Homo sapiens: one gene and its partner. The protein of the gene in region 2 interacts with the protein of the main gene of each other region in a pairwise test. Each region holds a gene or a part of one and is shown on either strand. Other genes may lie near its edges.

Region 1 (3,755 bases), on a different chromosome or scaffold from region 2:
CAGGGTTTCACCATGTTAACCAGATGGTCTCGATCTCCTGACCTCAGGTGATCTGCCTGCCTTGGCCTCCCAAAGTGTTGGGATTACAGGCGTGAGCCACCACGCCCGGACTGCTTTAGCTTTCTATGGGAGCTGTCACTGAGGACTGTGAGGCACTGCAGTGTTAGAAGTGATCAAGCCACATTCATTTTAGCCACTGGAAAAAACAAGAAACAGAAAGAAACCAGTTTAACCATGCCTTTTATTTATTTATTTATTTTTATTTTTATTTTCATTTTTTGAGACAGTTTCACTCTTGTCGCCCAGGCTGGAGTGCAGTGGCGTAATCTTGGCTCACTGCAACCTCTGCCTCCTAGATTCAAGCGATTCTCCTGCCTCAGCCTCCCAAGTAGCTGGGATTACAGGCACCACTACCACGCCCAGCTACTTTTTCTATTTTTAGTACAGATGGGGTTTCATCATATTGGCTAGTCTGGTCTCAAACTCCTGACCTCGGGTGATCTCCCTGCCTCGGCCTCCCAAAGTACTGGGATTATGGGTGTGAGCCACCGCTCCTGACTACAGACCCCTTTTAGATACATCTGGATTCAGGCCTTTCCTCCATTCATACTCATTTGCAAGTCATCACTTGTATTTGCAGTTTTTATTTAAACTATAAAAATAGTATGCTAAAAAAGAACAAGATCATGTCTTTTGAGGAAGCAAGATCATGGGTGGAGCTGGAGGCCATTATCCTTAGCAAACTAATGCAGGAACAGAAAACCAAATACCACGTGTTCTCACTCATATGTGGGAGCTGAATGATGAGAACTCATGGACACAAAGAAGAGAACAACAGACACTGGGGTTCGCTTAAGGGAGGAGAGAGAGAGGAGCAGAAAAGATAACTACTGGGTACTGGGCTAAATACCTGGGTGATGAAATAATCTGTACAACAAATCCCCATGACATGAGTTTACGATTTGTTACCTATATAACAAACCTTCACATGTACTCCCAAACCTAAAAGTTTTTTTTTTTTTAAGTATGCTTGCTATTTTAAAAATATAAATTATGGTGTGGGGGTACACACCTGTAATCCCAGCTACTCAGGAGGCTGAGGCCAGAGAATCGCTTGAACCCAGGAGGTGGAGGATGCAGTGAGCCGAGATCATGCCATTGCACTCTAGCCTTGGTGACAGAGCAAGACTCTGAGACTCCATCTCAAAATAAATAAATATACTTTATTTATTTCATAAAATGAAAATATATAAAGAAAAGGCCGGGTGCAGTGGCTCACGCCTGTAATCCCAGCACTTTGGGAGGCCGAGGCAGGTGGATCACCTGAGATCAGGAGTTAGAGACCAGCCTGGCCAACATGGTGAAACCCCGTTTTTACTAAAAATACAAAAATTAGCCGGGCATGGTGGCGCATGCCTGTAGACCCAGCTACTTGGGAGGCTGAGGCAGGAGAATCGCTTGAACCTGGGAGGCAGATGTTGCAGTGAGCCAAAATCACACCATTGCACTCCAGCCTGTGTGACAAGAGTGAAACCCTGTCTCTAAAAAAAAAGAAAAAGAAAAAAAATACAAGTCCTTCCTTAGTTCCCACACCCCCACTCCCCAGATTTAACTGTTAAGCATTTGGCATTTATCCTTCCAGGCCTTTCTGGGTGGAAATGCAGCCTGCATGCACCAGTATGCAAAGCTTCCAGCTCTGCCCATCCCAGCTGGTGGTGTGGCAGCCCCACTCTGATCTATGGGGACTCCATCCTGACTGGTTGGTGCTTGCATCTCTCCTGCCTACATATAACTCACCATTTCACTTTCTCTTTCCATCAACAACATATCCTGTGCTTCTGCATCCTTCCATGACAGTGTGTATAAATGTACGTTGTTGGTGTTCACTGCTCCGTGGTGTGCCACAAGTCTGGGTGCATTGTCGTACCTTACATATTGCTAGACTTCTTGCCCCAGATGACAGGTGTGCCCTTCCTTTCACTAAAAGATGCTTTTGTCCCTTCTTCTTTAGAATCTGAAAGCGGCTGATACTGACCCCACAGCCCCGCCTTATGATTCTCTGCTCGTGTTTGACTATGAAGGAAGCGGTTCCGAAGCTGCTAGTCTGAGCTCCCTGAACTCCTCAGAGTCAGACAAAGACCAGGACTATGACTACTTGAACGAATGGGGCAATCGCTTCAAGAAGCTGGCTGACATGTACGGAGGCGGCGAGGACGACTAGGGGACTCGAGAGAGGCGGGCCCCAGACCCATGTGCTGGGAAATGCAGAAATCACGTTGCTGGTGGTTTTTCAGCTCCCTTCCCTTGAGATGAGTTTCTGGGGAAAAAAAAGAGACTGGTTAGTGATGCAGTTAGTATAGCTTTATACTCTCTCCACTTTATAGCTCTAATAAGTTTGTGTTAGAAAAGTTTCGACTTATTTCTTAAAGCTTTTTTTTTTTTCCCATCACTCTTTACATGGTGGTGATGTCCAAAAGATACCCAAATTTTAATATTCCAGAAGAACAACTTTAGCATCAGAAGGTTCACCCAGCACCTTGCAGATTTTCTTAAGGAATTTTGTCTCACTTTTAAAAAGAAGGGGAGAAGTCAGCTACTCTAGTTCTGTTGTTTTGTGTATATAATTTTTTAAAAAAAATTTGTGTGCTTCTGCTCATTACTACACTGGTGTGTCCCTCTGCCTTTTTTTTTTTTTTAAGACAGGGTCTCATTCTATCGGCCAGGCTGGAGTGCAGTGGTGCAATCACAGCTCACTGCAGCCTTGTCCTCCCAGGCTCAAGCTATCCTTGCACCTCAGCCTCCCAAGTAGCTGGGACCACAGGCATGCACCACTACGCATGACTAATTTTTTAAATATTTGAGACGGGGTCTCCCTGTGTTACCCAGGCTGGTCTCAAACTCCTGGGCTCAAGTGATCCTCCCATCTTGGCCTCCCAGAGTATTGGGATTACAGACATGAGCCACTGCACCTGCCCAGCTCCCCAACTCCCTGCCATTTTTTAAGAGACAGTTTCGCTCCATCGCCCAGGCCTGGGATGCAGTGATGTGATCATAGCTCACTGTAACCTCAAACTCTGGGGCTCAAGCAGTTCTCCCACCAGCCTCCTTTTTATTTTTTTGTACAGATGGGGTCTTGCTATGTTGCCCAAGCTGGTCTTAAACTCCTGGCCTCAAGCAATCCTTCTGCCTTGGCCCCCCAAAGTGCTGGGATTGTGGGCATGAGCTGCTGTGCCCAGCCTCCATGTTTTAATATCAACTCTCACTCCTGAATTCAGTTGCTTTGCCCAAGATAGGAGTTCTCTGATGCAGAAATTATTGGGCTCTTTTAGGGTAAGAAGTTTGTGTCTTTGTCTGGCCACATCTTGACTAGGTATTGTCTACTCTGAAGACCTTTAATGGCTTCCCTCTTTCATCTCCTGAGTATGTAACTTGCAATGGGCAGCTATCCAGTGACTTGTTCTGAGTAAGTGTGTTCATTAATGTTTATTTAGCTCTGAAGCAAGAGTGATATACTCCAGGACTTAGAATAGTGCCTAAAGTGCTGCAGCCAAAGACAGAGCGGAACTATGAAAAGTGGGCTTGGAGATGGCAGGAGAGCTTGTCATTGAGCCTGGCAATTTAGCAAACTGATGCTGAGGATGATTGAGGTGGGTCTACCTCATCTCTGAAAATTCTGGAAGGAATGGAGGAGTCTCAACATGTGTTTCTGACACAAGATCCGTGGTTTGTACTCAAAGCCCAGAATCCCCAAGTGC
Region 2 (3,755 bases):
TTTTTAAAGCTTTTCTTTTTCTCTTTATTTTTTATTAAGGGAATCCTCACATACACAAAGATAAAAGTAGTGTAATGAACCTCCAAGGACCCATCTCTGAGACTCAACAATTATCAACATTGTGCCAGTCTTGTTGCAGCACCCTGGGACGAATCTTATTCACAGCAGGCTCTTCCTTCTTCCTGCCCACCCCACGCTTCCCAGTCTAGCACCTTAGACCAAAAGAGATCGGAAAATTGAGTTACCTGTATAATCTGGGCATAATTTTTTTATCGTTGTCCCTTTAACCCAGAACTTTATGCATTCTTTACTTTAGCTTTAGGAGAGTGGTGAATGAGATTTGTGAAGGGGACATTTTCTAGGGAATCGGTAAATTCGGGCCTTTGGAAAAAGTGTATCAACATCAGTCACATTGCCTAATTTCATGCTTACCTTGTGTGTAAGTTGCATAATCGCTGGCTTTGTGGACATGGGAAGGAAGGAGACTGGCTGTGGGTGGGGATGGAAGCCTGGGGACCTCACTGTAGACCCTTCCTTGTCCCCTCGTCAGGTTTGTATGTTCAGAGGGAAAGCAGTGCAGAACATATTTAAATAACCCTATTTTCCTTTATTTTTTTCTAGGTGTTGTTAGAGATACAAAAGGAATTATTAGACTACAAAGGAGTTGGCATTAGTGTTCTTGGTAAGATTTACTTTTGAATTCTGTGAATGTCCATGTTTCAAAGGAAGCTTTTTTTTTTTTTTTTTTTTTTAGAGGCAGGGTCCTGCTCTGTCACCCAGGCTGGAGTACAGTGGCGTGATCATAGTTCACTGCAGCCTCCAACTCCTGGGCTCAAGTGACCCTCCTGCCTCAGCATCCTGAGTAGCTAGGACTATAGGTACACATCACCACACCTGGCTAATTTTTTTTAAATGTTTAAAACATTTTTTAAAGATCCCATGAGATGGGATCTCACTTTGTTGCCCAGGCTGATCTGAAACTCGTGGCCTGAAGCCATCCTCCCACATTGGCCTCCCAAAGTTTTGGGATTACAGGCTTGAGCCACTGAGCCCTGGCCCAAAGGGAACTAATTTAAATGCATCAAATATAGAATTACAGGGCCTATAGGGTCTTCCTATAGGCCTTTATAGATACATTTTTAAACTTTAATAGCTTGGGTTGCATGTCTGATAGAAACCATTTTGAAAATAGCATAAATGCTGGTGAGAGGTTCTGACATCTCAGCTTACCCTGTCATAATTGGTTTTTGCTAATCATAGGATTTAGGATCAGAAGATACTGTATATTTGCATAACAGTGCCTCCAAACATTTATAATATTGCTTTACATTCAATTTACAGTTTTTATTATACTTAAATACAACCTCATTAAAGTTTAAAAGTACATAAGCCTTTTATGAAGACCTCGCACATTGATAATCTTATTAAGTTTCCCCTATATTTTTTGGGAAGAGGACCTCTGCATTCTAAAACTTATTTTCTTTTATTTTTGGCGGTTCTGAAGACTGCATGGTATTAAGAGACCATAGGGTTAACTATATTGCTTATTTCTGTTAAATTTTGCTCCTGTTGGTTTGGGACATATACTTAGATTTCTGTGAAGTGAGATCACAGCATGGAATTTTGTGCTCCAGACCTAAAGGGCAACTGTTGCACATGGATTCCTGTTTGTGAGAAAGAGATGGTAAGAAGAATCACAGAGAGCATCACGGAGTGATGAATTAATAAATAACTTGCTCAGTGAATGTACCACTTGAAAAATCCTTCTGCCATGACTATAAAGCTAAAATGTTTGCAATTTGAAAATCAGTTTGTATGGTCCCCTAAACTAAGTGAGCCTTGGCCCACAATTTGAATGCAGAATAACTGAAATTTCCCTGTATTGTTGTTTACTTGCAAATTTCGTAGGTATTTCTGTTCATTTGGTTTTGAGCTGGAATATTTGTTATTGTTGTTTATCTTTCCTTTCACAGAAATGAGTCACAGGTCATCAGATTTTGCCAAGATTATTAACAATACAGAGAATCTTGTGCGGGAATTGCTGTAAGTTTTAAAAAGACCAAATCATGTTACTTTTGTTAGATACTTCCTAAATCTGGATGTCTTCCAGTATTTTCTACACTCTATTGTTTGTTCAGAATATTTCATAATTTAAAATAATCCTTGTAAGATTCTCTCCAATTCACTATTAGTACCTAACGCTTTTTATTTGTTCCCCATCCCGTGTTTATATGTTTTTGTTTTTATTTTATGTGATATTTCCAAAGATTTGAAATCATTGTATCTAGGAATGATTTTTCAGCACTGTGGCAGTTAAACTGGTGTGAAAGAGATGTAAATGACACAGAAATGGTCATCTTTGTCAGCATAATTGACTATAAACTAGTTCAGGTGTTCTCGAAGTTTGAGTCTCATACGATCTGTCAGAGTCACCTGGTTAGGGGGAATATTAAAAAATTCAAGTGGGGCCGGGCAAGGTGGCTCATGCCTGTAATCCCAGCACTTTGGGAGGCCGAGGCGGGTGGATCGTGAGATCAGGAGATCAAGACCATGCTGGCTACCACGGTGAAACCCCATCTACTAAAAATACAAAAAAAGAAAAAATTAGCTGGGCATGGTGGCGCATACCTGTATTCCCAGCTATTCGGGAGGCTGAGGCAGGAGAATCGCTTGAACCAGGGAGGCGGAGTTTGCAGTGAGCCGAGACCGTGCCACTGCATTCCAGCTTAGGTGACAAAGCGAGACTCCGTCTCAAAAAAAAAAAAAAAAAAAAAAAAAAAATCAAGTGGTGGGCACCACTTAGTCCTGCTGAATCAGAATCTCTGGAGAGACTTTATTTTTAACAGGCTCTTTGGGTAATTGTAAGAGTTCTGAACTGTAGGAACTACTGCTTAGACGAAATCTCCTGGGTTATCTGTACTGCCTTTCCTATCCAGAGAATCCCTTATTCTTAAATAGATTGCTATTTAAAGGAGAGATTTTTATATATTATATAAACATGTTCACATAAACCTACGAATATAGCAAGTTTGAAAGCATACCATTTTTTTTCCTGCTCACAGAAATAATGCACATTTATGGTAGGAAAAACACTGTAGCTCACAACTAAACTGAAATTAACTTTAACCCCACTAATCAGGGATAATCACTAATATGTTAGGACCCATTCTTGCATTATTACATTAACAAAATTGGAATTATACTGATTATTTCAAGTTTTCTTTTTCAAATTGCTTGATAAAATGATTCAGATGGGGCAGGCTTGGTGATATTTCTGTGAGGAGCTGTAGACGCTAATTGCAATGTGAATGTTCAGAGCTGGTAGCCATCTGCTTGGCTTCTCTCGTCCATTGGCCTGCTGAGTATCATGTCACATTCATAGGACAATCCTGTCCTTCATGGAGTGGGTATTTGGAACATCAGCCTGGGAGAGATGACATTTGACCACATGGCTATGAACTTCCTCTGACTGGGGTCCCAGTTCAATTTAAGGGCCTATCTTTTCTTCTCCTAACCTGGTTCCCACCTTGTATACCTGTACCTAGACCTCGGCCTGGTTTCTTTCCATCTAATTCTTGGCCTTGTTAACTGCCCTGCATCTGAATAATGTGAACCTGGAACTCTGTCTTGGGTTATCAGTCTTCCCAGCTGCTAAGAACCTCATGGCCAGAGTCTCCTAAGACCTGCTGGTTGCTTGCTATCCTACTAAGCACTGAATATAGGCCATACATCTTTCAGGACAAGATATTTACACT

The links. Proteins that work in one complex are often made in the same cells at the same time.
Region 1: the proteins of PSAT1 (region 2) and CDH1 interact in binary tests that used the Homo sapiens proteins (3 or more experiments, as listed by UniProt).

Annotation. Positions count from the first base shown.
Region 1 is NC_000016.10:68,831,279-68,835,033, forward strand, and holds part of CDH1 (cadherin-1 isoform 1 preproprotein), read left to right. Parts: intron 1-2,011; coding exon 2,012-2,221; 3' UTR 2,222-3,755.
Region 2 is NC_000009.12:78,299,981-78,303,735, forward strand, and holds part of PSAT1 (phosphoserine aminotransferase), read left to right. Parts: intron 1-621; coding exon 622-682; intron 683-1,973; coding exon 1,974-2,043; intron 2,044-3,755. UniProt on the Homo sapiens protein: Involved in L-serine biosynthesis via the phosphorylated pathway, a three-step pathway converting the glycolytic intermediate 3-phospho-D-glycerate into L-serine.